4 separate regions of the Homo sapiens genome follow, and all the other regions are reported to be linked to region 2. The links are microRNA targets in miRTarBase. Many come from high-throughput screens and were not tested one by one. Region 2 holds a microRNA gene; each other region holds the end of a gene's coding sequence.
What was found. The annotated mature microRNA hsa-miR-2114-5p reads UAGUCCCUUCCUUGAAGCGGUC and lies in region 2 at 3,923-3,944, shown strand. An mRNA with a match to its seed (bases 2 to 7 or 8) in the 3' UTR can be bound and repressed. Matches are read on the target gene's strand: a 7mer-m8 pairs with bases 2 to 8, a 7mer-A1 pairs with bases 2 to 7 and ends in A, and an 8mer does both.

Region 1 (7,119 bases), not on the chromosome of region 2:
CCTCTGTCGCCCAGGCTGGAGTGCAGTAGCACGACCTCAGCTCACTGCAACTTCTGCCTCCTGGGTTCAAGCAATTCTCGTGCCTGGCCCTCAGGTAGCTGGGATTACAGGTGTGCACCACCACGCCCGACTAATTTTTGTATTTTTAGTACAGATGGGGTTTCACCATGTTGGTCAGGCTGGTCTCGAACTCCTGACATCAAGTTCAAGTGATCCGCCCCTCTCGGCCTCCCAAAGTGCTGGGATTACAGGTGTGAGCCACCACGCCAGGCCTAATTTTTGTATTTTTAGTAGAGACAGGGTTTCACCATGTTGGCCAGACTGGTCTTGAACTCCTGATCTCAAGTGATCAGCCCACCTTGGCCTCCGAAAGCGCTGGAATTAAAGGAATGAGCCACCATGCCCGGGCAGACTATGTAGTAGATTTTAAAATCTTGATTAAAAGAAGAAAGCCCACAATAAGCCATGCTGCTATCCGGCTAGTGCACCAGTATGGTAATCCAGCTGGCTTCCACTGGACCTGGTGAGGTTTCTGTTCTGACTGGTCATGTCTCTGGCATAATAGTTGATAAATTTTTGAAAAGTCATTCCTATCCACAGAAGCAATAAACAGTAGTCAAAAACTACTCCCACTTGAGGCCCCTGGTCTATATAGTTTCATGACCCAATTCTCTCAAACCTTTAAAGAATAAATAATGCTCATGCTATTTAAACAATGTAATGACAGAAAGCATTTCTGTTTTACCAAAAAAAAACAAGTATAACCCTCATGTGGCAACTTGAGGAAAATAACACAGAGAAAAAAATCACAAACCAATCTCATTTGAATAGAGAAGCAAAAAGCCCAGGATAATCCATGCTGTTACCAAGTCCAGGCAGGTATGTTATTTTCTCCAGCAGCAGATCAGATGTAGGCAAGGAGAGGGCAATCAGCTAGGGCCTTGATAGAAGCCTGGGACAGGAAAACTGTGCAAGGAGAGTGGCTGAAGTGAAGAAGCGAGAGGGAAGAAATGAAGAAAGGAAGGGGCTGAGAGACTGGGGGCTAATGAAGAAAAAGGTGAAGAATATCACTGCAAACCAAGAATGATGGAACTGAGAGGCCTTCAAACTGTGGCCACCCAGGAGCACTAGAGACTATGGAGATGGAGATAGGAACAGGTAAGGAGACCAGGGATGTAGGGAAGCTGATTTACCAGGGAAGGAGCAAACTGCTCCAGATACCTCTAGAGCAGAAAGGGGGCACGGAAGGTTGAGCTGGAAAACTAGATCAATATGATGACGCTGAGAGCAGACAACAGACAACTAGAGGTCTTACGTCTTGGGCAAGAACCAACCATACACACAGCCACTACACAGGATAAATTATTCAACCTCACTAGTAACCAAAGAAACGTAAATGAGAACAAATATAATTTTACACATATCAATAGGCAAAGATAACTAGGAAAAAAATACTGCTGGACAAAACAAGAGGATGTTTGCACAGAAAATGAGCTCTAAGACTTTTGACTCTGGGGATGAAAAATACCATACAACAATAAAGGGTCCATTAATAAGGGGTTGGTTGAGTGAACTGTGACCCTCTCACGGAAGAAGCTACTACTCAGCTCTTAAAACTTAATATGTAGAAATAGGCTTGATATTGAAAGATTCACTGCTGCATCAAAAAGCAGTTTCTAAAAATGTAATTTTAACGTACTCATCTTTGCACAAGTATAGAAGTATGGGTGATTTTTGTATTTTCTTTCCTTACATGCATTTTGTATTTTTTTCTACAATGAACTTTTGGAACACAATAAAAACGACAAAATCACGTCACCTTCCTGCTAAAAACTCTCCCAATGCCCCCACGGCCTTTGGACTCTGGTCCAAATTCCTCAGCACTCCAAGGACCCTCGTGAAGGATCTTGGCCTCTCTCCTCATCCCCTCACCCAAATCTCACACATGAAGTTCGTGAGGACTCCCTCTTTTACACCTCAGTTCTCTCTGCCCGGCACATCCCCGCCCACCGTTCCAGGGATACAGCAGCAAAGCCCCCTAGCCCCGCCCCGAGCAGCCACAGAAGGGCCTCCCGCGGGCTGGCCGAATTCCGCTGGGAGGAAATGCGCACGGAGACTCCGGAGGCCCGGGTCTATCGCGTGACCGCGCCACGAGCCTGCGCGCAGGGACAGACTGGGAGCCCCCGGGCCGCGAGCAGGGGCAGGGCCGTAGCGTCCGAGCGGCACAGAAGCCTCTGGGCTCCGGGCATGGAGTCCGGCCGGGCTGTCTCCATGGCCGGACTGGGGAGAGGCTCCCGGCAGGACCCGCCCCGACCTCACCTTGGCGCTGCTCACGAAACGGACTTCCACGGAGACCCGCGCGCGGCCCGCCACGCCCACGCAGAAGGAGAACACGTCGCACATGGAGGCCGCCATCTTGGGCGCGCCTCCGCCTTATGACCCTTAACCCCGCCTCGACCTGAGAGGCCACACCCCCTTCTGGTCCCGCCCCCGGCGAGAGTGCCCCTGAGGCTGCGAGGTTTTGGGCTCCACCAAGTCTGAATTTAGGTTCCGTGGTTTGTTGACGGGAGTGTAACTGGGCCTGCCTTTGTGCTTTTACATCGGTGCCTTTTTGTGTCTGTACCTCTGTATCAGAGTCTGTGTGCGCGTACAGTTTTGATGTGTGTATCTTTGAGTCCGTTGCATGTTTTGTTGTGGTTTTTTTTTTTTGAGATAGTCTCACTCTGTCGCCCAGGCTGGTGTGCAGTGGCGCGATCTCGGCTCAGTGCAACCTCTGCCTCCCAGGTTCAAGTGATTCATTCTCCTGCCTCAGCCTCCCGAGTAGCTGGGCGTACAGGCGTGCGCCACTAAGCCCAGCTAATTTTTGTATTTTTAGGGGTTTCACCATGTTGGCCAGGCTGGTCTCGAACTCCTGACCTCAAGTGATCCGCCCGCCTCGACCTCCTAAAGTGTTGGGATTACAGGCGTGAGCCACCTCGCCCGGCCTCCGATGCATGTTTCTATGTATGTTGTCTCTGTCCACACAGTGGCCTGTCTTCACTGAGTAAAGCGCTCTTTGGACCCAGCCCTAGAGTGGGACAGCAGAAGGCCAACTTACTCCTATCCTGTCTAGCTCTCAGCCTGAAGGGAAGGACTAGCTTATACCCCGGAGCTCACTCACCCCACTTGAAGAGTCCAGGACAAGATTTCCTTTCTCGGTAATCCCTCTGGCAGCAGAACAGTCCTGCCAAAGGTCAGGGTGGACTTGTGCCTCTGTCAGATTCTTCAATGGCTTAGGGACCTTGCAACCGGGGGTAGCGGAGGAGTCCATAGGGGACCTCAGATCTGAGAACCTCTGAAACTGGATACAGAAGTGAGTGTGCATATGCACACACTGTCGTGAAAAGGGGGAGGGGCCTGTTCTCTCAGGACCCCAAGAAGCTGCAAACCACAGACCTATGGCATTTGTCCCCACAGCTAGGCCTGACTATCAAGCCTTGTTTTGTTTCCTTGTCCCCTGATTTTGTGAGTTTTGTTTGAGACAGGGTCTCGCTTTGTCGCCCATACTGGCATGGGGCGATCTCGGCTCACGGCAGCCTCCAGCTCCCGGGCTCAAGAACAGACTGGGCAACGTAGTGAGACCTTGTCTCTCCAAAAAATAGAAAAATTTGCCGGGCGTGGTGATGCGTGGGAGGATCACCTGAACCTGGGGAGGTCTAGACTGCAATGAGCCGTGATCAAGCCACAATTATCTATCAAATAATTATAGATAGATAGATAGTTGGCAGGGACAGAGAAAGGTTCTTGAAACTGACCCTGCCTCTCCTCAAGCTTGCAACCTGGTGTCAAGGAGCGAATAGTCCACGGACTTGGGGGAGATAGATAGTTGGCAGGGCCAGAGAAGAGGCTCTTGAAACCGACCCTGGGTCCCCTCAAGCCTGCAGCCCGGTGTCAGGGAGCGAATAGTCCACGTACTTGGGGGCAAACCTACCCGAGAGCAGCTGGGGGCCGTGCCCTCACTCACCACCAGGTGGCAGGGCAGGCTTCCTTCCATCCCTCAGCTCAGTCCCCAAGAGCCATTCTAGAATCTGAATGGTCTGTGCTACAGAAATCAGCTCTGCAAATCCTGGCAGCAGGCTTCTTTCAGAGAAATCGAGCACATTCTTGAGAAGAAAAAGGAGCCATGAGTCAGAGTCATGAAAGGGGGAAATTATAACTGTCCTGTGAAAACACAGCAGAGTTTATGACAAAATGCCAGCCTTGGCATACACAAATTATTCTATAAAAAGATGGGGCTTTGGGAGGCCAAGGCAGGAGAACCACTTGAAGCCTGGAATTCAAGACCAGCCTGGGCAACAAGTGGACGTTGTCTCTACAAAAAATGTTAAAAATTAGCCAGGCGTGGTGTCACGCGCCTGTAGTCCCAGCTGCTTAGGAGGCTAAGGTGGGAGGATCACTAGAGCCCAGGAGGTTGAGGCTGCCGTGAGCTATGATTGCACCACTGCACTCCAGTCTGGGTGACAGAGCGAGTCCTTGTCTTTGCTGCTGGGCCTGAGCTTCTTCTGAGAATGGTAACAGTTCAGACAAAACAAGAAAACGTTGGGAAACTTTGTGAAGTGGGCTAAACAGTCTACCTTCTCTTCTTTGCTCTCAACTCCTTCTGATGGTGAAGAGTCTTCTATGCCCAGATGCTTATTCAAAGAGGTTCCTTCTCCACAGCCAGGCCAGGAAAATATTAATTGCTGGTACAGGTATTACTCCCCCAGGTGAGGGGAGCTGTGATATTATGAAATATATATTTGGTCTTCATCTCGATTTCCTGGCATAGAACTCCTAAAATCCCTAGAATCTCTGAAGTGATGTCTTTTCATATGCTAATGAGTTGACTGATGACTGGTAGACCTTAAGACTCCATAAAAAACAAAAAGGGCAGGGTTGGGCCGGGTGGTGGCTCACACATGTAATCCCAGCACTTTGGGAGGCCGAGGTGGGTGGATCACAAGGTCAGCAGTTCAAGACCAGCCTGACCATATGATGAAACCCCGTCTCTACTAAAAATATAAAAATTAGCCAGGCATGGTGGCATGCGCCTATAGTCCCAGCTGCTCGGGAGGCTGAGGCAGGAGAATCGCTTGAACCCGGGAGGCGGAGGTGGCGGTGAGCCAAGATCGCGCCACTGCAGTCTGTCTCAAAAAAAAAAGAAAGGAGGGGCTGCCATGTGGAATGAGCCCTGAATCTGTGGGGTCAGACACTACCTGCAGGTAGATCATGTCAGAATTTGCTGAACTGGAGGTTGGAATGTGGGGTACACCCCTATACGTTTGGTCACAGAAGTGTTCTGTGTTGATTGTTGTGGGGTGACAGCAGAAGAAAAAAACTTTTTTTTTTCCAGTTGGTCTTCTCTACTCAGGGGCCTACAAGCCTTAACAGTAACCACACACTTTGCACTGTGCATGGCACATTATTGCTTTACAGACATCTTCTCACCCCTGGGTGATCTAAGTTATGAATGCACCCATTATACAGATAAAGAAAAAAGGCTCGGAAGTTCCATAGGTTGGCCAAGGACATAGCTGAAGGCCAGAGTCTGTGCCTCCAATCATTACATTATTCCAGTTTCCAGGAATCAGTATAGAAAAGGGGGTCCCTGCTTGACAGCTCAGATTCTTCTGGTTGAGGAGGCTTTTCGTTGAGGTGTGAGGCAGGGAGCTCCAGTGGGTACCCCCAGGAGGAACTAGTCCAGGCAGCCTGGCTAGGGCCTCTGTCCCAGTCTTCAGCCGTCCACTCCTGACTCGGCATCATCACTCTGGATACTGGCGATGGAGCTGCTGGAAGGCTCATCCAGGGAGGCAGCCTCGGCAGATGTAACTGCTGCCCTCAGCTTTTGCTGCTTCTGATACTTGACCCTGCGGTTCTGGAACCAGACTCTCACCTATAATTGGAGAGTGGGCAGAGATCAGAATGTGACCATCAGGTCCCACTGCTTCCTAATTCCTGGAGTGAACACCCCTCTCTGCCTGGCCAATATTTGCTCTTCCTTCTCAGGGAGGTACCTCCTCCAAAACACCCCTTTCTACAATTCCAGACACCATTCATTCATCTGAGTATTTACTGAGTTTCCAGTATGTGCTAAGCACCATCCTAGGTGATGCTGATACAGTGGTGAGCAACAGAGGCAAGCTGCCTGCCCTCGTGGAGCTCATGAGCTAGTGAAGAAACACTGGCAAGAAACATGTAAACAAACAAAGAGCTATGTAAACACAAAAGGGGGTACAAACAGGGGTTTGGGCAGAGGAGGCCTCCCTAAGGAGCCAGCATTAAAGCTGAGGCTCAAAGAGAGAGAGGCCCACCTGATGGGGACAGAGAAGAGCAGGTCTGCAGGGCAGGGAACAACCTGTAGGAAGGCTCTGAAATGGAACCAAGCTTGGAGTGTTTGAGGACCAGGAAGGAGGAGAGCACGGATGACAGTGAGAGGAGAAAGTCAAGGGAGGGAAATGGGAGAGGTCAGCGGGTGCCAGATCACCCAGGACCTGGAAGGCCATAGATAAGGAATGTCACCCATGAGGCTTTTACGTGGGCCCACATAATCCTATTTACATCTGAAGTGCACTGTGCACCTAGCTGCTGTGTGAAGCATGGATGGCAGCAGAAGCAGGAAGACAGGAGGGAGGCTACTGCAGCGGCCCCGGGAGAGCTGGGGCGTACATTAGGGGTGACAGAGAGAAGTGAAGCCACTCCAGCTGTATTTTGGAGGTAGAGATGACAAGGCTCAATGATGGTTGGAAGCGGAGGAGAAGGAGGAATCTAGGATGATTGGGTTTTTGAGTAACCAGGTGGACGGTGGGGTCATATATGGGAAAGGAACATATTTGGGCAAGAAAAAAGTCAGGAATTGAGGTTTAGACTTGGGTTTGAGATATGTGCCCATGAGACATCTAAGTGGAATCACCAAGAAGGTAGTTAGAGATATAAGTCAGATGAGATGGTTGTGCTGAGGATACAAATTTGGGAGTCATTGGCTTATAGATGGTATTTTAAGCCACGGGAATAGATGAGACCAGCTGGGAAGAGATTTCGAGGTCCCCAAGGGAAGAGTAGCCTGCCAAGGAGGCAGAGCTGGGAGGAAAACTAGACAGCATG
Region 2 (7,119 bases):
GGATCACACTCTAAAGGCAGGTAGGGCAGTGCCTGCATGGCACTTGGTGGATGGTCAATAAGACTTTATCCTTCTTCCTTCATCTTCCTCTTCCTCCTTCCTGTTTCCCCTCCTCTCCTTGGTATTGTTGCTATTTTGTATTGGTTTCTGTGCCTACTGTAACAAATTACCATAAACTTCGTGGCTTAAAACAGTGACAACTTATTCACTGATGCAGAAATGTATTTATTCATTTATTCTCCAACAGTTCTGGAGGCCAGAAATCAGAAATCAAGGTGTCAGCAGTTCCAAGCTCCCTGCGAAGGCTCTAGGGGATAATCCTTCCTTGCTTCTTCCAGCTTCTGGTGGATCCAGGTGTTCCTTTGGCTTGTGGCCGTATCACTCCAACCTCTGGCTCCATCTTCACCCTTACCTACTTCCCTGTGTATCTTGAATCTCCTGCCACTCTCTTATAATGACACGTCATTGGATTTAGTGCCTATTTGGATAATCTGGGATGGTATCTCAAGATCCTTAATTACATCTGCAAAGACCTTTTGCCAAATAAGGTCATATTCACAGGTGCCAGGTAGACATATCTTTGTGGGGCCACCATTCAATATACTACAGTATGAATATTAGGTTTTCTTGTCAACCCCAGATTCTCAGGCCCAGCCACCTGCATTTTCCCTGAGCTGAGCCTCTTCAGAACACTCATGGAGCTACGTGCCTATGGCCACAGTGGGAAGCAAGACCACAGCTTGTATCAGGTCTCCAGAACTTGTGGCACAGGGCCTTGGCCATCAGGTGACCCAAGCCTTTTACTGGCCTAGCAGGGGAAACTAAGCACCGCCCCCTGTTCCCACGCAGGAGACAGTAAGTCTCATGCTCTTTCCTGCTTGCTTTCAGCAGGTATCTAGAGGGCATCTCCCATAGGTCCAGCCCAGCCTGACTGCTGGGACACAGTGTTATTAATTAATTAATAACCAAAACCTCCTAGGCATCTCCCTGGCAGCCCCAAGGCCATCTTCCTGCCCCTGCCCTCAGGGCTCCACAGGCTTTGCTAAGGGCATGCAAACAGGCTCTCCCATTGCCGAGTGGACTGGGGCCACAGTGGGCCCTAAAGCACAGAGGGTGGGAAGAGCTTATCCTAGCCTTGGAGCTAAAGTCCTGGATTCAAATCCTGAGGACCATGTCTGTCACCTTAGACCATGCCCTCAAGGTAAAATAGCAGCTGTGAGCCCTGATGAGGTTGTGAAGCCCATACAGGGAGGGGAGTGCAAGCATTTTACAACCTGCAAAGGGCCATGCAGGAGACAGTCTTAAGAGATGCCAGGCCACTCTTCCCACCTGCATAGCCTAGGGGCTGGGATTGACCTTTCTCCTGCATCAGACAGGACAAACAAATGCCCCCCATGCTGGGAAAAGCCAGGACTCTGAGAGAAAGGCAGACCTTGAGGGCGGGGATGGGAGGATGCCCGTGCAAAGCTTAGCCCCCCTCCTCACACTTTTCTAAGAACGCAGTGATGGAACAGAACAAGAGAAAGACCATGTCTTTCACCAAAGGGGGGAGGGGACAACCCAGTGACCAATTTCAGTGATTAGCTGCAAGAAGAGGGTCCTTTATTCCAGGCGTGTGTATGCCTTTTAATTTCCTCTTGTGGGCTCCTGAGGGGGCCCAGTAACCGTGCAATTGGTATTCCTCTCCAGCCTTGGAGGATGCGGGCACTCTCTCGGAGATGGCTCCAGGTGGCACAGAGTGCCACCTGCACTCCCAGCTTCCCGATTAACTACTCTGCAGCAGACCTCCACAGGGCGATGAAGGGGAGGTGATAAGCTGGCCCAGCTCTGCCCTGGAGCCCAGGTGGGTCTTCTCCCGCCCGGAGGCAGCAGCGGCAGCATTAGGGAGGTGCGAGTTGACCCTACCTCCTACCTGCTTTGTGCTAAACCAAAACAAAAACCGGTGTCAAAGGGGCTTGGCCCCCTTCAGCAATTGAAGGCATAGAAGTTACACACCGGGCCAATTAGGGAGTGGAAATTTGCATTACAAGAAGACCCTTTGCTTCACAAAAGTAGTTCTCATAAGATTGCAATAGATGGCACCCAGGGGGGTTAAAGATTCAATTTTCAAAACCGAGTTTTGCCCACAACTCTTTCGCAGCACGTTCTGTTGTGGAAAACCAGTCTCCAGACTGACTTTTGACCAGCCTTCCAGCCCCAAGATTTGTTGTTTACCAAAGGATACATGCCATCCTTATACTATCTCATACTCAACCCCCTTCTTTGCTATGCCCGGGGCAATTGCTCCAAAACAGATATGGCTCCTCCCAGGCTGGCACCTGGCTCCCGGAGGTAGTCACAGTGGACAAGTATCTAGGCCTGGGGTGGAGAGTACGAGCTAGACCTGAGTCCCAGTCCTGCTGAGCCATCTCAAGTTGCAGGGCCTGTCCCCTCTTTCAGGCCTGAGTGTCCACATTTATAGAACAAGGGAAGGTTGATAGAAGAATCTCCCAAAGTGTTTTTCATTCTAGGAGTTCATTCCTAGGCATTGCTGGGTGGCCCTGGGGATACTCTTGACCTATGAAGTAAGATAGGGACATTGCCTTAGATAACGCCAATAATAATACACAGGGGAAAATCCAAATGCCTGCGTGCAAGTACTTTAGCCCTTGTACCATTTACAGATGCTGAAGGTGCAGCGGTGGGGATGGCCTGTGTCCCTACAGAAAGCACATCTTACAAGTCACACGCCTCACCATCTAAGTGCTCAGCTTTCTGAAACCTGCTCATTCAGAACATATGAACCTCATGCTGTGGTATTCCAGGTCTCAGCTTGGCAAGCTCAATGATGTTTTCATTCCAATCAGTGCTGAATACAAACAGACCCTTATCCCTAAATTGTGAAATTTAGAGAAAAGTAGAGTCTCAAGGTGCAAAATTTGAACCTCACAAAATTTAACTAAACCGAAGTTTGGGATATAGTAAGAGCTCAAGGAAATGGCTTCTAATTGCTCATTGGGAATAGATTTTTGAGATTAAAACAAATTTTTCAAACCTGTCCAGACTCAGAGGCTTGGGAGTGAACAGTTGTCACTTAACTTTATGGCAGTGGTGGCTGGAAGCTCGCCCACCCTGATTCTTTGTTCTCCCTCCCATAATTGCTCAAACTGAGAGGTCTGTAGGCACCTTAAGGATTCAAAGTGATTTGTGAAAGTTGTAAAGTCCAAGCCTCAACTAGAGAGTTGTTCTTGGAGGTAGGAAGTTTGAGGGACTTAAAATGAACTGGGGGGAAAAAGGCAACAGAGGAAGAGTGAGAACAGAGAGAGAGAAAGGCTCAGAGGAAGGAAGATAGGGGAGGGGGGGAGAGAAGGAGAGAGAGAACGTGAACATTTCCTGGTGATTTTAATTTTCACATCACAAAACACCGCACGTCTGTCAACCGTTATATTTCCTGTGCAGCCTTCTGTGACCACATGGAGTACCTCAGGGAGGGAAGAAAATAGAATTCATTCCTTTCTACCCCCAGCCTGATCTGCCCACAGCTGTTTGGGCACAAAGGAAGGAGGGTAGAGCTCTGGAAAATTGCCAAGAGCGCCTCCTCTCTCCAAGGGGAATGACCAATTTTCACCGCCACTGGAAGGGTGTGAGCTGTCCCAAACTGCCCTCTGGGATTATGCTTACTCGGTTCCACAGGAACATTTAGAGAGACAGAGGTTGCCTTGGGTTATCAGGGCCACAGGCTTCCTGGGTCTGCTTTTGGCACCTAGGATTCCATGAAGAGGGACTGACAGAACCTGAGAGCTGAAAAGCACCTCAAGAAGTCATCGGTCCAGTCTTGCCTCTAAGGACTCTCCATCTCAATCAGCAGGACCCTCACCCAGTCAGCAATGGATCAAACGTCCCAGCTTCTGGGGCCAAAGACAGGCCTCTGCCTCCATGCTCCTAGTCCCTTCCTTGAAGCGGTCGGATAATCACATGACGAGCCTCAAGCAAGGGACTTCAAGCTGGTGGCTTCCAGCAGCTAGCTTCCTGCTTCCGAACCATCATTGCCTCCTATTGAAGTCCTCCCATCCTCCACTCCCACATCTATCCAGGCCCTGGGAAACTTTGCCAAGAAGCAGATGATGGCGTCTGCCTTTGCCTGGGTGATGAGATGACTGGCTTCTGTCCCAGTTCTGCCACTCACCAGATGGATCAGTTTCTCATTGCTGTTATAACAAATTACCACCAACATAGTGGCTTAAAACAATGCAAATTTACTATTATACTTTTGGAGGTCAGAGGTCCAAAACAAATCAGTTTCACTGGCCTAAAATCAAGGTGTCAACAGGGCTGGATGCTTTTGGAGGCTCTGAGGGGAGAATCCATTACTTTGCCTTTTTCAGGTTGGCCACCTGTATTCCTTGGCTCATCACCCCCTCCTCCATCTTCAAAGCACATCGTTTCAATCTCTTTCTTAAGGTATCTTGCGGAGGAGGTCCCAGAGGCACCAAAGGGGTGACAAGCACAGATTGCTTTAACTGCTACTCAGAGAATGACTCTGCGCCAAGCCCTGTGCTGAAGGCTTTACACTCACAATCCTTGATATACACATGGAGCTCTTGTCATCACATCCCTTTTTCTTCTGTCTGTGCCAAATCTCCTTCTGCCTTCCTCTTATAAGGACACTTGTGATTGCATTCACAGCCTTCCCAGATAATCTAGGACAACCTTCTCACTTCAAGATCCTTAACTTAATTACATACACAAAGTCCCTTTTGCCATATAAAGTCATATTCACAGGTTCCAGGGGTTAGGATGTGGACATCTTTGTGGGCCATTATTTAGCCTACCATACCAGTAATAGGTCTTTGGCAAGTAAAGTCACCTCACCTCTCTGAACCTTACTTTCCTCATTTGTTCAGAGGGGAGAAGACTCCTGCCCTGCTGACTTCCTGGGCGCCCTAGGAGGTTCCAGTAAGAGAGTGAATGTGATGACATTGTATGCTGTTGAGTGAACACCAGAATAAGTGCTGAGCCTGGTTCTTGTTGCCCTTCTTATGAAGCTGTGGTCCCCTCAGTTCAGTCACCCAGTGCTATCTTCCTCTCTGGAGCCTTTCCTCTGTGGCCTTTTCCAGGCATGTCTTGATGAATGTACTCCAAGTTAAATGTGTCACTAAGCCAACTGGCTCCTCCTACCCTCTCCCAATGATTGAGCGTATAGAGTGGCTATGCTGACTTTGGATCCCAGGCACTGGCAAGTGAACACCTTAGTTGGTTAAAATATCCCTTCCCACTCTGCTGTGTTATGGTTTCAGTGAGACCCATGTGTATATGAAGAAGATTGTGAGTGTAGAGCCCTCAGCACAGGGCTTGGCACAGAGTTGTTGTTCTCTGAGTGGCAGTTAAAAATGTCTGTGCTTGTTGCCCCTTTTGGTGCCTCTGGGACCATCCTTTACCCCCTCCTCTGCAAGATACCTTAAGACCACAGCTAGCAGTCACAGCAGCAAGTGCAAGCACCTTTTGACATTTATGCCATCCTGGCCCTCTGCCAGTTGCTATCCATATCACTTTGGTTGGCCAAGCCCCATTGTCAGCCTCAGCTGGCCAGCATTCTTGGAGACAGGTCACAGTTTGTTCAACAGCTGATAAGAGGTGTGTAAGGGGCATCAAAGGCTCTGAATGGAGAGGTGGAAAAAGCCCCTGGGTGCATGGCCCTGGATGACTCTTGGGGTTTAGAAGAGACCACGGAGATGACCAATGACCAACAAGCTTTCAAAGGGAAATGCTTGCCTCTACCAAACTCAGGGGAAGTCATATCTTCTATCACCCCGGCGGGGGGCTTCAGTTAAGCTTGTGAGAAGCTGAGAGCAGAAAGACCTTTTCTGAACCTGATGTTCCCACCCCTCATCATGCCACTGTGGAGACAGGATCTACAGGGAACAGGGAGAACTTGGCCATTATTTCCCAAGACAGCCAGGCTGGCAGCTTCCACTACAGGTGCTGCTCTTCTCATTCCTGATCTTCTGAGCACACCATCATTCCCCAGGGCCTTCCACAGCCATCTTCTCTGCTGGGGTGTCCCATAACCTTTTTATGAGTCCCAGATGACCTTGATTCCAAAACCTGACAAGGATATTGCAAGAAATGAACATTATAGACCAATTCCTCTCATGAACATAGTTCCACAAACTCTTAAGATATTAGCAAACCAAATCCAATACATATACACATACAATATTTATTGTTACATTTATATATATACATATAACATATACATACATGAATATAAATACATATCTCCCTTCCCTTTCCATTAATATGTATGTGCATATATATATATATATGTATGTCCAGTCATATATATTCATATATGTTCATTGTCCCATTCATGTGTGTATGTGCAGACAGAGAGGACTTCATCTTCATAGTTCTTCTGGTATTTTCAGGGTTCACCTCCCAAATAAATTATTTGTACTCCAATTCCTGACCTAGTATCAGCTTCTGGGGAAATACAATCTAATTCAACAACTAATTAAGGTTTATTGTAGGCATGTGAGATGTGAGGGTGGTTAACTATTTAGAAAATCAACCAATTGGATTAATCTTATTAACAAAGAAAAAGGAGGAAGTCATACAATCATTTGAATTGGTGCAGAAAAGCATTTGAGAACATTCAACAGCCATCCTTAATAAAACACCAAAAAACAAACAAAAATCTCTTAGAAAACTAAGAAGGGAACTTTCTTTCTTTCTTTCTTTCTTTCTTTCTTTCTTTCTTTCTTTCTTTCTTTTTAGTACAAACTTAGGGCTCTTTATTCAGGTAGTAAAGTAAGGAACAGCAAAGTGGGAGGGCTACACCATCACCATGGCAACAGAAAGCCTCAAAAACATAAAGTCCCTCGACTTATGTCGGGTAGACTCTTCCTAGCTCAGGAGAAACACATTTTAACTGGCTGAGGACAAGGCCAGGCAGCCTGGCCTCACTGTGGAAGGGCAGCTGGACGCATGGCCTCTGGTCAATCCTGGAAGTGCTTGGTGAGGGCTTCCAGCAGCTCCTGCTTCTTCAGCCCACTCTTCAGCCCGTAAGCCCGGCAGGCCTCTTTCAACATGGGCACAGTGAACTTGCCCAGCGTGCCCTTGCTAATGTGGGTCTTCAGC
Region 3 (7,119 bases), not on the chromosome of region 2:
TTCCTGTTGCCTGATTTTTATTAGTCAGAGGTCATTTGTTTGGGAGCCATTTTTATATGATTGACTCTCACACTAGGCCTCTGGCCCCTCCTGGAGCCTAGGCACCCTGCCCACCCCCAACCCTGTTAAGCAAGCCTCCTTTCCTGTGCCAATGAGTGGCATTTGTTTGTGGAACATGGGGATGTGTGGTATAAGCTACAGCTGGCCCCGTAAGTGGCCCTCTCTCTAATGAGAGAGTACATCTTAAAGTACTTAAATAGATTAATGTTTTTAATACTTACTTCTCCAGGAGCACAACACCAACCAAACCAAGGTGCCATTTCAGATGGAGCTGTAAGCAGGCAATACATAAAGACTGACCTGCAGTCTTAGAGTTCCTAAGACCCAATGCAGTGGAGCACAGCAGGCAGACGCTTCTAACGGTGCAGGCACTCAGGGGAGCTATTCCTTGAACTGATTTCCGTCTGTTGAGAGGAATGCCAGAAAGGCAAATACTTGTTTCAGTTATTCCGAAGGCACATGTATGGTTGGGCTTGCTCCAGTTATCAGATGCCTCTGCCATTTTGTTTGCATATTAGAATTCTTATTTTTGGTGTTTGCTGCTTGGTTTGGTTAGGTCAGGGTGGAAACATAGATTTGTTAGAGGCTGGCTGTCTTTGTGGTTTAAAACAAGAAATTACACAGGGAGACACAGCATATGGAGTTCCATTTACTGTTTTTGAGTGAAAGGGGAGAAATCACATGTGGTGCATCTTAGCAAAATTGCTGAGCTGAAAAAAATAACCACAGCTAACAGCACCTGAATGAAAGGCAGCATGACCATTTCCCAACAAAATGGTTTTTTTCTACCAGCAAAATGTGTGGTTATTTTGCAGGTGACTTCATTCTGGGCCACTAGAATGAGGACTAAACTACGAGTCAGCAAACTTTTGTTCAAATCTAAAGTCAGTCACTCAGGGCTAGTTTTTCCTCTTTGTATCTTTCTCTCACTTCTCTACCTTTCTTCTCATTTTTCCCATTTGTTTCCAACAGGCCTTACATTCTAAGCTTCAAGCTCTGGGCAAAATTGAGTCAGAAGGTCTTTTAAGTCTGACCACCCAGCTTGTCAAGGAAAAACTCTCCACCTGTGAAGCAGAGGACATCGCCACCTATGAGCAGAATCTGCAGCAGTGGCATCTAGACCTTGTACAGTTGATCCAGAGAGAACAGCAACAGAGGGAGCAAGCGAAGCAGGAGTACCAGGCTCAGAAAGCAGCAAAGGCATCTGCCTAATAGGGTCCCCCAGGGCCCCACCTGTCTCACAAGAACTTCACTCAACCCCGTGCCAGGACTCAGCAGTGGCCTGGACAACAGCCTCAGCTTCCTCTACCCATCTTCTTTTCTTAAAGCAGGCTATGTGCCCTACATGGCAAGGCACCATGACTGCCCATCGAGATGCCAAGAAGGGCTATGGAACTATGCAGGTGGCTAGTGGTCAGACTGAAGTCACCAGCTGAATACCTTAAGGAGGACTCTTGAGGCTCATAATGGAGTTCCTGGGGCACAGGGATTAGTTATGAGCATTAAAGTTCCTAAGACCCAGTGACAGTACTGGGAGAAACCAAGGCTGAAGAGTCAGGTTGAAGCACAGGCTTTTGTTTTTTGTTGTTTTTGTTTTTTGAGACAGAGTCTCATTCTGTCACCCAGGCTGGAGTGCAGTGGCGCAATCTTGGCTCACTGCAACCTCCGACTCCCAGGTTCAAGCAATTCTCCTGCCTCGGCCTCCTTTAGTAGGTGGGATTACAGGTGCATACCACCACACCTTTCTAATTTTTGCATTTTTAGTAGAGATGGGGTTTCACCATGTTGGTCAGGCTGGTCTCAACCTCCTGACCTCAAGTGATCTGCCCGCCTCAGCCTCCCAAAGTGCTGGGATGATAGGCGTGAGCCACCACACCCGGCCAAGCACAGGCTTTTGAATGGTCTCCCTCTCCCCAGCCCAGGTACATGAGGCCAAGGTGAACTGTGCATCCTGAGACCTTGTGTCCCTGAGTCTCCTTTCTGAGTGCAAGCTGCACTGTGAGCTGGCTGTGGGATACTCACACATTCCCACATTCTCCTTTCTGCCACATCTCGCCCTTCTGGACCTGCACTGGGAGAAATTCAGGACAGGAGTGAACTCAAGGCCATGAACTCACTGGATTTCCATTTTTAGGCACCCATAGGGATGTTTTTAGGATGTAAGTTTCTGAGGAGAAAGCTAGCTCTAGCATGAAGCTTTTTTGGATTGGCTTCTCCATCGTGTTGGGGTAACATTTTTTTTCCAATTTTTTTTTTCCCAAAACATCGTCTCAGCTCATTTATCAAGTAGGTAAAATGAGCCTTTTGTGTACACACAGAGGCACATGTGCATGCACACACAACTTGTGAACACACATTTCTGTTAAAGAAGTTAGAAAATGAGAGATGGGTTGGGGCTTGAAGTGCATCAGAGGTATGAATGTTGTAAAACTGTCAGGAGATGTAAAATTCCTTTCTGAAGTGTCTCTTCTGTGAAAGGGTTCAGAGCAGATTTTGCTTACTATGTAGTGTTGCCCTTAAGTACAGTGGTGTAATTTTATTCAAGATTGTGCTCTTCTATCAAAAGCCTCTGGAAATAAATGTTCCGGGATCATGTTAGTGTACTCTTTATCTTTGGGGAAAGGGAGGAGGGAGAGGGACTCATTATTGTTACTATGATTTTGAGGAGTGTACTTTAAACCCTCCCCCATTAAACTATGGGATTTATTGTAATAATGATAACTGCCACCACTAATATTTATTAAGGACTTAACTGTAGGCTGAAAACCCAAGCAGCCCTATGAGGGAGGTACCAGTGTCCCCATTTTATGAAACAAAGCAGCTCTCCTGCTGCTCCTCTCCCTGCCTGTGGCCTCCATATAGAACCGCAGTAGTCAGGATCCAACACAGGGCCCTTTAGACTAGCAAAGCTGCTGAATCTTACTTAGGTAGAGGGCCGTGACCAAAAGTCAGTTCCAACATTTTGGTTTACCAACAACAGGAGTTTTTCAGCCACTCTCTCATTACATTAAGAGGAACATTCAACACAAACAAAAGGGCAACTTTTGCCCAGTAAATTAATGACTGTCACAACATGAAGTATCTGGTTAAGGCTTTGGCTCATCGTTTTGCCTTCATTTTTCCTCCCTCTCCAGCCCCAATGTACTTTACTTCTCTTCTTCACCAAAAGAGACCACTTCTGCCACTGTACTGTGGTCCCACAGGAATTTCCATGTTCCCTCCTCCTCAGGATTCCTTCCACACTTGTGCCCCATTTCTCAGGACTCTTGGAGTCTTTCCCCTCCAAATATTCTGCCCTTTCCCCATGTCCTTATCTCCTGAGCTATAGGATACTCTCCTGCCTTCCTTCACAATTGGCTCTTCCCAATACAGTTGTCCTTTGTCCCTTTCCCTGATGTCATCTTCCATATTTCTTCCATGTGGATGGAGAAACTGCTCTTGGTGCCCTGGCCTCTGGAGGTTACCTCAACTGGATCATCTCCCAGTAACAAATTACCTTCTGCAGCTGACCTGCCATAGTCACAGCCAAACCTCCAGCCTCATCACGAATCCGAGATCTTAGATCCTGAAGTCCCCACTCTCCCAGGCTCGTCTCGTACCATGACTGCTGCTGAACCAACTTGCTCTGTAATTTCCTGCCTGCTAATCCTTAGCCTTTACCCCATCACCCAAACTCTTGGTCTCCAGAATCTGCTTCTCTTCCAGTGTGGGCCCCATGGTCAGCCATCCCCATGTTCTCATTAGCATCTTCATTTTCTCTCACTCCCTTTATCTAGGCTCACTTGCCAGCCTTCGACCTACATCCTTGCACCCATCTATTATGGGTAGAATTGTGTTCCCTAAAAAAGGTAAGTTGTATCCCTAATCCCCAGTCCCTTAGAATCTGACCTTAGTTGGAAATAAGTTTGTACTGAGGTAATCAAATATAGAGTGAGATCATCAGGGTCAGCCTGATCCAATTTGGTGTTTTTTTAAAAGGGGAAATTTGCACACACAGACTCACAGAGGGAAGATGAGCATGTGACCGTACAGGCCCAGGAACACCAAGGCTTGCCAGCAAACACCAGAAGTTAGAAGGGGTAAGGACGCTTCTCCCCTAGAGCCGTCAGAGAAAGCTTGGCCCTGCAGACACCTTGATTTCTGAGTTCTAGCCTTCAGAACTGTTATTTTAAGCCACACCATTTTTGGTACTTTGTTACTGCAGCCCTAGGAAACTGATAACACCACCATTCATTTTCTCTTTGGTTCTGACTTACTAAGTGTAGATATATAAAGTCATAATATTAGGCTGATTAGATTCTTCTACAAAATTATGGCTGTTCTCTTCAACTCAATAGTCCTTCCTTTAATTGACTCTCATTTTTGCTTCCATAGCTTTTCTGTTCTGCGTTAGCTCGAAGCCCTGCCCTCAGAACTACAAGCAGATGTTCTCTCCATCATCCTTCCTACTTTCAAATAATAGGTATCCCCTCCCTCCTTTCAAAGCTTAGGCTCTTCATTTGTGACCTTGGCCCATACCTGCCCACCTGTTCTACACATTCAAGCATTCCCTTTCCGTCTTATAGCATCTCTGTTGATTTCTTCTTCTAAGTCTACAGTCTTATTCAAGACCTTATTCAACACTTTTTAACAGCAAAAAATCCTTTACCCTGCCATCAGTCAAGCTGTCATGCTATGTCTCCTTCCTTATGTCTCCAAACTTCTTGAAAGGGTATCTACACTTACTGGCTCATTGTTCATTCATTAGAGGCTGAGAATTTGGCTTATAGCTTTACCACTCTGCTGCACAACATGGTCATCAACTACAGTGATCTTTTTTTTTTTTTTTCCTTTTAAATGCTCTGCTCCATTTGGTACCACTGACCACCCCTTATAAGCTTGCTGTCTGCAGCAGACTTACTGTCTGTTCCAGCACTGCTTTCGCAAGCTCTCAAGTGTTCGGTGTATACTGTGTACAAGGCACTATACAAGTGCTATGGAGTTTACAAGGATGAATAAACTATAGATTTTACCCTCAAATAACTTAGATTCTAGTGAGGCTGGCACATCCACACCCGTCAATACACAGCTGAAAGGTGTCGTTAGACAAACAGTTAATGTATGTGGGAGTTCACAGGAAGATCACTTTAAGCCCAGTGATGGGAAAAACTCTAATGAAGGGAATTAATTGCCTGCTTTGTGCATTAATTAGTCACATATGAGTGCCTCAAGCTGCCCTGGGGTCCTCTTTCCACAGAGGCTTGTGTGATGTGTTCATGAGAAAATACTTTAAATTAAGCTAAAATGAACAATTCAGATTAAACTTGTTTTGGCCCACATCCCATACTTACCTTGGCCATAAAAAGGAAAAAAAAGCAAGGCGGTGGAAAGAAGAAAAGAAAGAAAAATGATAAGGTATTATCCTCCCCTCAGTGCTGTGTTGCCTTGGCACCCAGCCTTGCATCCTGTTTTCCGACCTTCTCGTTGGCTGTGGAATCAGGTAGGTGTGTGAGAAGATTGGTTTAGATTCTACAAGAAGTAGTCAGAGGCCTTGAAAATAAGTTGATTATACCACAGTGGCTCACACCTGTAATCCCAGTACTTTGGGAGGCCGGGCCAGAGGATCACTTGAGGTCAGGAGCTCGAGACCAGCCCGGCTAACATAGCAAAACTCTGTCTCTACTAAAAAATACAAAAATTAGCTGGGTGTGGTGGTTGGCACCTGTAATCCCAGCTATTCAGGAGGCTGAGGCAGGAGAATCGATTGAACCTGGGAGGCAGAGGTTGCAGTGAGCCAAGATTGAGCCAATGCACTCCAGCCTGGGCAACAGAGCGAGACCAAAAAAGTTGATTAAAACCTTTTTTCACACTGAAAACAATTAGTTTTGCCATTCTTTGTTGTCTTTACTTTTGTGCATCTTCCCTGAAAATATACTGCAGCATTCTACTTTTTTCTTTTTGCTGCAGGTATCTGATGAGCTTTGGGAAACTCTCTTATTTTAACCACTGAGGAAAGGAAAAGCAGCTGCTGTGGTGGAACAGAGAACTTAGAATTAGGTATGAAAAACATTTCTAGAAGCTCATTGTGTCACTTAGGCCCCCCAGGAAGCAGATCAGCATCAGAGTCAGAGGTAACAGTGAAAGCAGTTTTGGGGGGATAAAGCCTGTGAAAAATGAAAGGAGGTGGAATTGGGATTGGGTGAGGAAAGCCTTCAGGTGGAGGTCCTACATCTGCAAAAGGAAAGGAGGGAGGAAGCACCACCGCCTAGCCTCTATTGCTTGAGGGGGGAGATTTTCAACACCCATCATCCCTATTGCCAACAACACCAAGCATAACCTCCTTTTCTATTGTGAGTTCTAGTCTGCTACCAAACCTGGTGACACAGGTGCCTGCTCACCAGTGCCCTTCCCCAGTGCATTCCCAATGGCCTCGATGAGCGGCGTGCCACCTGGCCCTCGAGGGAACATAGTTCTCTGCTGGGTCTTCTGGCTTCCTGTGATATATGTATCCACTCCAGGAGGCTACCCTGAGACTTGTAATCCTTTTCTCCTGGATCTGCCAGGTCAATTCGGGTATTTCAGTGGTTCTCAGTTCAGGCTATCCCTTTCTCCAGGCTTTTTTTATGAGCCATTGTTGCAGCAAGTCTGCAACACCCCCTGGAGTGTTAAACCCCTTAAGCATTTTATGGATTCTGAATTAATTATTTAGAACTAATTGGTGAGATTGGCCCTAGACTTTAAACTCCATGAAGACAGGCACTCTGTGTGTCTTGTTCATGGTTGTGGCCCAACACACAGAACAGGCATTACCATGAGGAGGGGGCTTATAAACATTTATTGAATGAATTATTTTTTATTAGGTTAAAAGGAAAGTCCTCCAACTGAGGTATAATTCCCAGCAGAAATTCTGAGATGCTAGAAGCCGTATGTCCTAAGCTGAGGTAGTTTAATGCCAAAGAAAGCCTCTTTGGATTTCTACGAAGTGTAGTGTAAGCCAAAATTGACACCAGGAGGAAGGTTTGTGGGGAAAAAATAGGGGGGTGAGCATGGTGTATCATATCAGAATTCTCTTCTACATAT
Region 4 (7,119 bases), not on the chromosome of region 2:
TGGCAGGGACCTGAGAAAGCAGGCAGCCCTGTCCTGTCCTCGTAAGTTATAGAGAAGCCGAGGACTGGACGATGTCACTGGTGACCAGATCCAAGTGCAGGCCGCAGTGCTCTTCGCCCTGTGACTCTTGGAGTTCCTAGTGTGTTCTGTTTCCAAGGGGAAAATGCACACGTAGCACGCACAGAAACTCCCAGGAGCCCAAGCTTTCCATTACCCACAGCTCTCCATTGCTCAGCCCTCCTGGATGCGCTGGGATTTGGCAAGGTGAGTGGTCTGTCATAAGGAATCAGAAAAGTACACTTTTTTTTCTGGAATTGGATTTTCCTGTTTTCTTTTTTTTTTTCCTGGGAGATGGTGTTCAAACTGGTAGGAACACACACCAAGCGTAACTTTCCTTGATTCTGACACATTTATGGTCATCATTGCGCTCAAACTGTCTTCAAGCCTCTCCTCTTTTCCTTCCAGATCATGCATGCCCCGCGGTCCAGGGACAGGTTCACAGCGCCGTCCTTCATCCAGAGGGATCGCTTCAGCCGCTTCCAGCCCACCTACCCCTATGTGCAGCACGAGATTGATCTTCCTCCCACCATCTCCCTGTCCGACGGTGAAGAGCCACCTCCTTACCAGGGGCCCTGCACCCTGCAGCTCCGGGACCCTGAACAGCAGATGGAACTCAACCGAGAGTCCGTGAGGGCCCCACCCAACCGAACCATATTTGACAGTGATTTAATAGACATTGCTATGTATAGCGGGGGTCCATGCCCACCCAGCAGCAACTCGGGCATCAGTGCAAGCACCTGCAGCAGTAACGGGAGGATGGAGGGGCCACCCCCCACATACAGCGAGGTGATGGGCCACCACCCAGGCGCCTCTTTCCTCCATCACCAGCGCAGCAACGCACACAGGGGCAGCAGACTGCAGTTTCAGCAGAACAATGCAGAGAGCACAATAGTACCCATCAAAGGCAAAGATAGGAAGCCTGGGAACCTGGTCTGATTCCTTCCAACGTGCACTTCAGCTGGAGAAAGAAACCAAGAAGGGAAGCGGCCGCTGGGCCCCTCCTGCGCACAGTGTTGTTCAGTTTCACATGGTACAAATAAGTAAAACCAAATGAGCAAACACGGTCTTTGTTTCTGATTCCTTTTAGGGGAATTGCATGCAAACTAGACTGAAATGATACAAACTTCCATCTGGTCTGACCGCAAACAGTGTTTATTTGGGGACAGGGGTTGGGATGGGGGTGTGGGCAGGGGAAAACAGAGAACGGGATGCTTTGAAGATACCATGAAATAAAACCCACAGAGGTATTTGATGTATTTAATTGTGAAAGGAGACTTTGCAGATAAATGAGGCCAGAATGGCATGTTTTATAATTAACTGAATAAAGAAGGAAGCATTATTATATATTATTGTGGGGAAGAACCAGCCAGTTCGCTTTTTCTCCTAAGGTGTGGAACTTTTATTTTGTTTTAAAAATATGAATCAAAATTCCTGTGTTGTGTGCCAAGGTATAAAGTGGAGAAGTTAGATGAGTGCAAGGAGCTCCTTTGTGTTGTGATGATGTGTTTTAAAAGTTGCACTATCTTAATGTTGAAAATATTTACAAGGGAACTGTTTTACGTGAAGTTCTGTATGTTGTCTTTTCACCTGTGGATTGTAATCAGGCCCAAGGAATATCCTGGAGTGGTCCCCAGAAGCATCCAAGAAAAGATATTTGGGGACGTAGCCTAACATTTTACCAACTTACGTAAATCAAAAAAGTCATTATTGTTGCAGGAGTTTGCATCAAATAGCAGTGCATCGCTGAAGCTTTTGGAGACTTTTGGATGGAAGATAAGATAGGGAAGATTAAGTTCCAGCATTTCTGACTTGTTATTTTGAGTTACTCTGCTACTCTTAGGCTGCATAGTTTATGAGAAAATGAACACATGCATTTATGGATCCAGTATCATGCAGTGCTGCCCTCATCCTCCAGCAGTGCAATTTCTTCAGTAATTTAGATTTTTTTCACTATAGCATGAAATATATTCAAATACATACCTTATTTTATGCAATAAATTGTTTAAAATGCAAGGTGGTTATTCTGCATACTGTTGAAATATGTGACTCCTCAGTATATTCCCATTGCCTCTCCCCCTTTCCTCGACAGCTTAGTTCAGTTCTGCAGGGCTGCTCAGTTCACAGGAGGCTCCCAGCAGCCACCCCACATCCAGCCTACACAGAACTTCGTGTGGGAGTGGTGTGGGTGGTGGTTTCTTATGCTTTGGAAGCCCCTAGAAATAATGACGGAAGAATGCCATGTTGCTGATCGTGGTAATAAGCCATTGTGGGTTATTGTATGTCACTAGTATTAGCATAGCATTCTTAAAGGAATGCAGTGCTCAAAACCTACCCAAATTCCCGCAGGATTCTACCAAACCCTTCCCCAGGCCAGCTTTTGTACTGAAGGCAAGAACTGGACAGTCAGAGAACAGTGGAGGGGGCAAGTGACTGAAGAGCACCGGGTAAAAAGCACAACATGCAGTTAAAATGCAACTAGAAAACTAATTTTAAATATTGTTAGTTTTAATATTCCTGATATTTACAAATATTCATTCTTATATACAATGAAAAAAATAACTTTCTTCTGCAGATGTAAGCACTGGCTTTTATAAGAGCAGCAGCCAACACGTTTAGCAGACACTGCGCGTGGAGAAGGGCTTATCTGCAGTACACTCTGCCATGTGGAGGGTGGGCCTCTGTGGCCTCTTCACATAACAAGATGAGCTGGAATGATGATTCCATGACTCCCACCTATGCAGCCTTAAAGCCAAATCCGCGTGTGTGTGTTTGTGTCTGTCTGTGGGTCTCGAAGGTGATCCGTCGGTGCGGTGGCTCTGTGCTGTAACTGGAGAGACTGTTCCAAACCCCAAGAGTTGTCTGATCCTAGTCTGTTCCCTTCTGCTTCTTACCTCTGTAGATAGGTCACTGGTTTTTGTTTGTTTGTTTTGAGGATTGGAATTTCCATTACATTCATCCTTTGCACACAGTAACATCCACAGAACTAGTCCAACTCTTAAAAGGAGAGAGGAAAAACACAGGCACCAGTTGTCAGCTCATGCTTACAACCTGTGTGGAAGTATATACAGTTGAGAGTCACAGTGGAGGTTCTGAGACTGGATTCAGTCTTGTTCCAGTGACAGTTGGAAGGCCTCTGCTGGAGAGACACCAGCTCTCAGGGCAGAGATTGGCTTGGGGCCAGAAGGACCCTCCCCAACCCTGGAGACACCCTGAAGGTTCACTGGCTCTCCAGATTAGCCTCTCTTCCTCTGTCAGGCAAAGATGAGGAGCCCGTGTTCCCATCGGGCCCTGCTGGCAGGGACTTGCAGTGGATTCTTGGTCAGGTGTGCCCACAGATGCGGAGGCGAGGTGAGTGATTCCATCATTTCAGTTCTCACCTGCAGTTTTGGTGAAGCAGGAGATGCACCCCACAGCTCTAGCTCTCAAATGGCTTCACAGTCCTTACTTCTCTACCTGCCTCAAGAAGGGGCTCAGAGCAGAGACTTGTGAATTCCTTAGTAACTGTGAGTATATGAATGTGTTGCACATGTCCACAGTATTGGCGAGATAATTACATAATTCAGATACCTTTAATCATCTTTCAAGAAAGAGGCTCCTCCCATTCAACCACCCTAGAGAACTGCCTTTGTTAAATAGTTATTTAAAGACTCATACATATCAAACCATGACTTTGAAAGGTCTTCGAGGCTGGGGCTCTGTAATGAATTAGTTTAAAAGCCAAGGTCATAACATGAATTGATGGTCAATTTCCCTTCAGCAGAAGGAAAAGGTGATTTAGATCAGTAGCTCTTTTGAAGGTTGTGGCTGACCTGTTCATACCGTGTCGCCTCATGGCTAGTGTGGCGTTGAAAGAGTAGCGACTGGGAAGATACAACTTACACAGTGGGGCCTATTGTTCTTTCAAGAACCCTTTTTTTAGCTTATAGAACCCATGGGTCCAGTTTAGTAACGAGTGATTTAGGCAATCAATGATAGGTTTATAATCTTAGATTATTCCAGCAAAGTGTGGATTGCATTGTTAGGAAGAACATTTGGTGGGAATGAACACTCCTGGGCATACCGCTGACTTTTGTCCCTTGTTCCCGGTGTAGGAGACCCAAGGCATCTTGAATCCCATCTATAAGAACACAATCTTCCAGCATACGTTTGCTTTTTCAGAAACTCTAGCATTCTCTTTAAATACTGACGCAATCCTTAATGGAAAAGAGATTTCATGAAGCAAATTATGTATTTCAATAGTTCTTCTATTTTTAGTGTCCAAAATTTACTAATACAGAAGCTTGACAAGCATGTCCTCACCCTCCCCACCACATAAACACATGGACACACACCCAAGCCACAAGAAATCCCAAGAGAGCAGAAGCGAATTTTTAAAAGATTTATCGTGAGGACTGCATTTCCATTCACTAATTTTGGCTCAAACTTATGAGGCAGGAAATAGGGGCCAACAGTAAATGGGGGAGGCCTCCTGACACCAGCAGAGGAATTTTGTACCCAGGCGAGGACTTCTTGAACTTCTGCGTATCTCCGTTTGATCTCTTTCACCTTTATTTCATCTTCATAAGAATGAGAAAGGCTCAAAAGGAAGCACTTTTAGAAATCTTCTCTGACCTAGAAGAATCCATCCAAATCCCTGCCTTCCTCTCTGAACCAACAGTTCCCTTCTCTGACAGGGGCCATCCTCTATCTTCCATCCAGCGGCTCTTCTTTTTAGGAAGGCTCTGGTGCAGAGCACTTCAAATATGTCCTCAGGCCAGATACTGATTGCTAGTAGAGAGACACCCGGCACCCAGTCCGAAGCCCTCCCTCAAAGGACCGGCTCATGGCGTTGGTCACTGGCAGGCTCAGAGACATTCTGCTGTGGGCGCAGGGAGCCCGGCCCCCCATGCAGCCATGACTGGATGCGCCCCCATCTCGGGGGCTTGCTGCACTGCTTGTTTATTGAATTTTGCTACTTAGAATGGCAACATTAACTTTGTGTACCATTCATTTTTTAAAAATTTTCCAAAGCTCGGCAGTGTATGAAAGAAAAAACTGGGAAAGATACTTGGTTTCTGTTAACTTTTGTGTTGCTTGCTTAAGTGATTAAAGCCAGTGCTTGGAGCCAAGCCTTCATGCCACGAACATGCTCCACAGCCTGCCCTTTGCTCTCCTGCTCACACTGACCAAGAATGCCGCGTGCTTGGCCTACTGAGGTGAAAGGACAATTGAATGACAGGTGGGCAAAGGGAGAACTTCCCCTTCTTGGTGCGAGGAAAGTCACAAATTTAAAAATGTTGCTTCCAGCCCAGATCCTAAATGCTAGTTCTCAGCAGCTGCGTGGCTTACCGTTCGCCATTTCCACCACCGCCAGCTGCCAGCACCGCTACAGATCACAGAGATGTGAACAGACAATGGAAAGCACTCTTAGCCTTGCAGTGGTCTACATTTTTTAGGAACCAATATTTCAGCATTCTTTATTACCCGGCACGCTGTGTCCTTTGCAGAGTTCAAGTTTATGTTACTGCCAGGGTCAGACAGTCATTTGCTGCTGCTGCTGCTGCTGCTGCTTCTCGAACTGGATGCATTAGGAAGCTGCTGTCTGAGTGTAGGAATGTCTTGCTAAGAAAGCAATGTCTTCCTTCATCCTTTTCTTTCTTCCCTCTGCGTGTCCTTGTTTTTGTGTAATGCGGGAGAGGGTTAGAGCTATAGAGATTATATATACACTATCCGTGCACATTATATATATGTAGATATACCCCTATCATGTCAGAGATCTGCATGTCAGTTTTTCAGCAACTAAGGTGCCTCATGTTCTGAGTTCAGCAGATATAGGAACCAAGCCGCCCCCTCCTGCACTTGATGCTCCCACCTTTGTTGTGCCTCACTTAAAATGGTGCTTTTTTCAGTTGTCTGTCTTTTCTTATGTTTTTATTTGTAAGGTGCTGTATATAAGTTGAATATATTATGCACATATCCTACCCAATGGGTAGAACAAAAAGTTGTTAATACTGTAATATAATGTATAGATGATACCAATTTTAACAGAAATGGCATAGAATTTGTGAATGCCTATGTGCTTTGTCCTCTTTTGTAAGGAAATTTGCAAATGGATGCATACAGATTAAAGTCTATGTAGTTTATTTTCCTATTAAATATCAATATTATAACACAAGAGAAAGAAGTGTGAACAAACAAGCAACAGTTTATGACCAGCGTATATATAGCAATGGAAAGTTGCATCTTTGCTGTGAAAACACTTTAAAGAAAATACTTTTTAAAAAATCCCACAGCTTTTTGGTTGCCACTAGACGCTTCTTATTTTAATCATTTTAGTAATGCTCAGCTGGACCAGTGTTAGTTATATTTGAGTCAGAAAAATGTTGTTTTTCAACTTGCTTTATAATCTCCTGCATCTATCTCCTGCTGTAGCATCACGAAGGTGTCAGGCAACAGTGAAAAGTGCACATTTTTGTTGTTGCAGAAACTGTGTCAGAGGAATAAGTAAATCAGCCTGCAGCAGAAGACTTTGTTCAGCTCCAGAGGCATCTGTGACCGTCTGTGTCCAAGTCTCTCTGTGCCTTTTTCTTTTACAAACTGAAGCTGTGGAGCCAATGAAGTAACAGTAGAGATTGTAGGGAAAGAATACCTCAGGAAAAACAAATACACTTACAAGAAGACCCTGTTCTTAGAAAATGTGTTTAGTTATGGGTTAGCACTAGAAGAGACTTGGCTGTCAGCCAGCCAAGTGAAGGACCTCTCATCCATTCCCATTCATGTCCCATCATAATACGGACCCAAAAAGCAAACTCGGTTTTGCCATCAGTTAGAAATTACGTTTTGGATTGTATATTGTTACATCTCTCTTCCGGCTTAGTTTTTAGTGTCTGATTGTGACCTCTGCATTTATCTTCAAATACCCTAATTTTAAAACAAAAGAACAAGAAAAGTTTATAACACCATGTTCACTAAAACCACGGTTGAATCTTGGGTGTGGGCATCCTTTCGAGTGTTGTCCATAAGAGCAGTTCGTGGAATTTTGCCCATCTGACCCATATTATCAGCTTATTCTGCCACCAG

Region 1: the mRNA of NOTO is a reported target of hsa-miR-2114-5p. Seed matches in the 3' UTR shown: 7mer-A1 at 5,073-5,079 and 7mer-A1 at 4,398-4,404.
Region 3: miRTarBase lists MRPS27 as a target of hsa-miR-2114-5p. Seed matches in the 3' UTR shown: 7mer-m8 at 2,695-2,701.
Region 4: the mRNA of LDLRAD4 is a reported target of hsa-miR-2114-5p. Seed matches in the 3' UTR shown: 7mer-m8 at 3,357-3,363.

What each region holds. Positions count from the first base shown.
Region 1 is chr2:73,209,563-73,216,681 of GRCh38, reverse strand. It overlaps NOTO (notochord homeobox), which reads right to left. Exons shown (of 3, transcript NM_001134462.2): 3 at 4,169-5,911. The coding sequence ends at 5,753. SMYD5 (SMYD family member 5) reads right to left here and starts at 2,437. Exons shown (of 13, transcript NM_006062.3): 1 at 2,320-2,437. The coding sequence starts at 2,415. RefSeq lists enhancers at 2,260-2,499, 2,287-2,581 and a silencer at 3,904-3,973.
Region 2 is chrX:150,224,094-150,231,212 of GRCh38, forward strand. It overlaps MIR2114 (microRNA 2114), which reads left to right and starts at 3,911; the gene lies at 3,911-3,990. It also overlaps the pseudogene XRCC6P2. RefSeq lists enhancers at 1,173-1,760, 1,761-2,346.
Region 3 is chr5:72,215,062-72,222,180 of GRCh38, reverse strand. It overlaps MRPS27 (mitochondrial ribosomal protein S27), which reads left to right. Exons shown (of 11, transcript NM_015084.3): 11 at 1,033-2,778. The coding sequence ends at 1,272. Among named protein-coding and RNA genes, the nearest start is that of MIR4803, 49 kb to the right of the region's middle.
Region 4 is chr18:13,644,662-13,651,780 of GRCh38, forward strand. LDLRAD4 (low density lipoprotein receptor class A domain containing 4) reads left to right here. Exons shown (of 7, transcript NM_001378100.1): 7 at 466-7,119. The coding sequence ends at 996. Among named protein-coding and RNA genes, the nearest start is that of MIR4526, 37 kb to the left of the region's middle. RefSeq lists enhancers at 4,397-4,898, 4,899-5,398.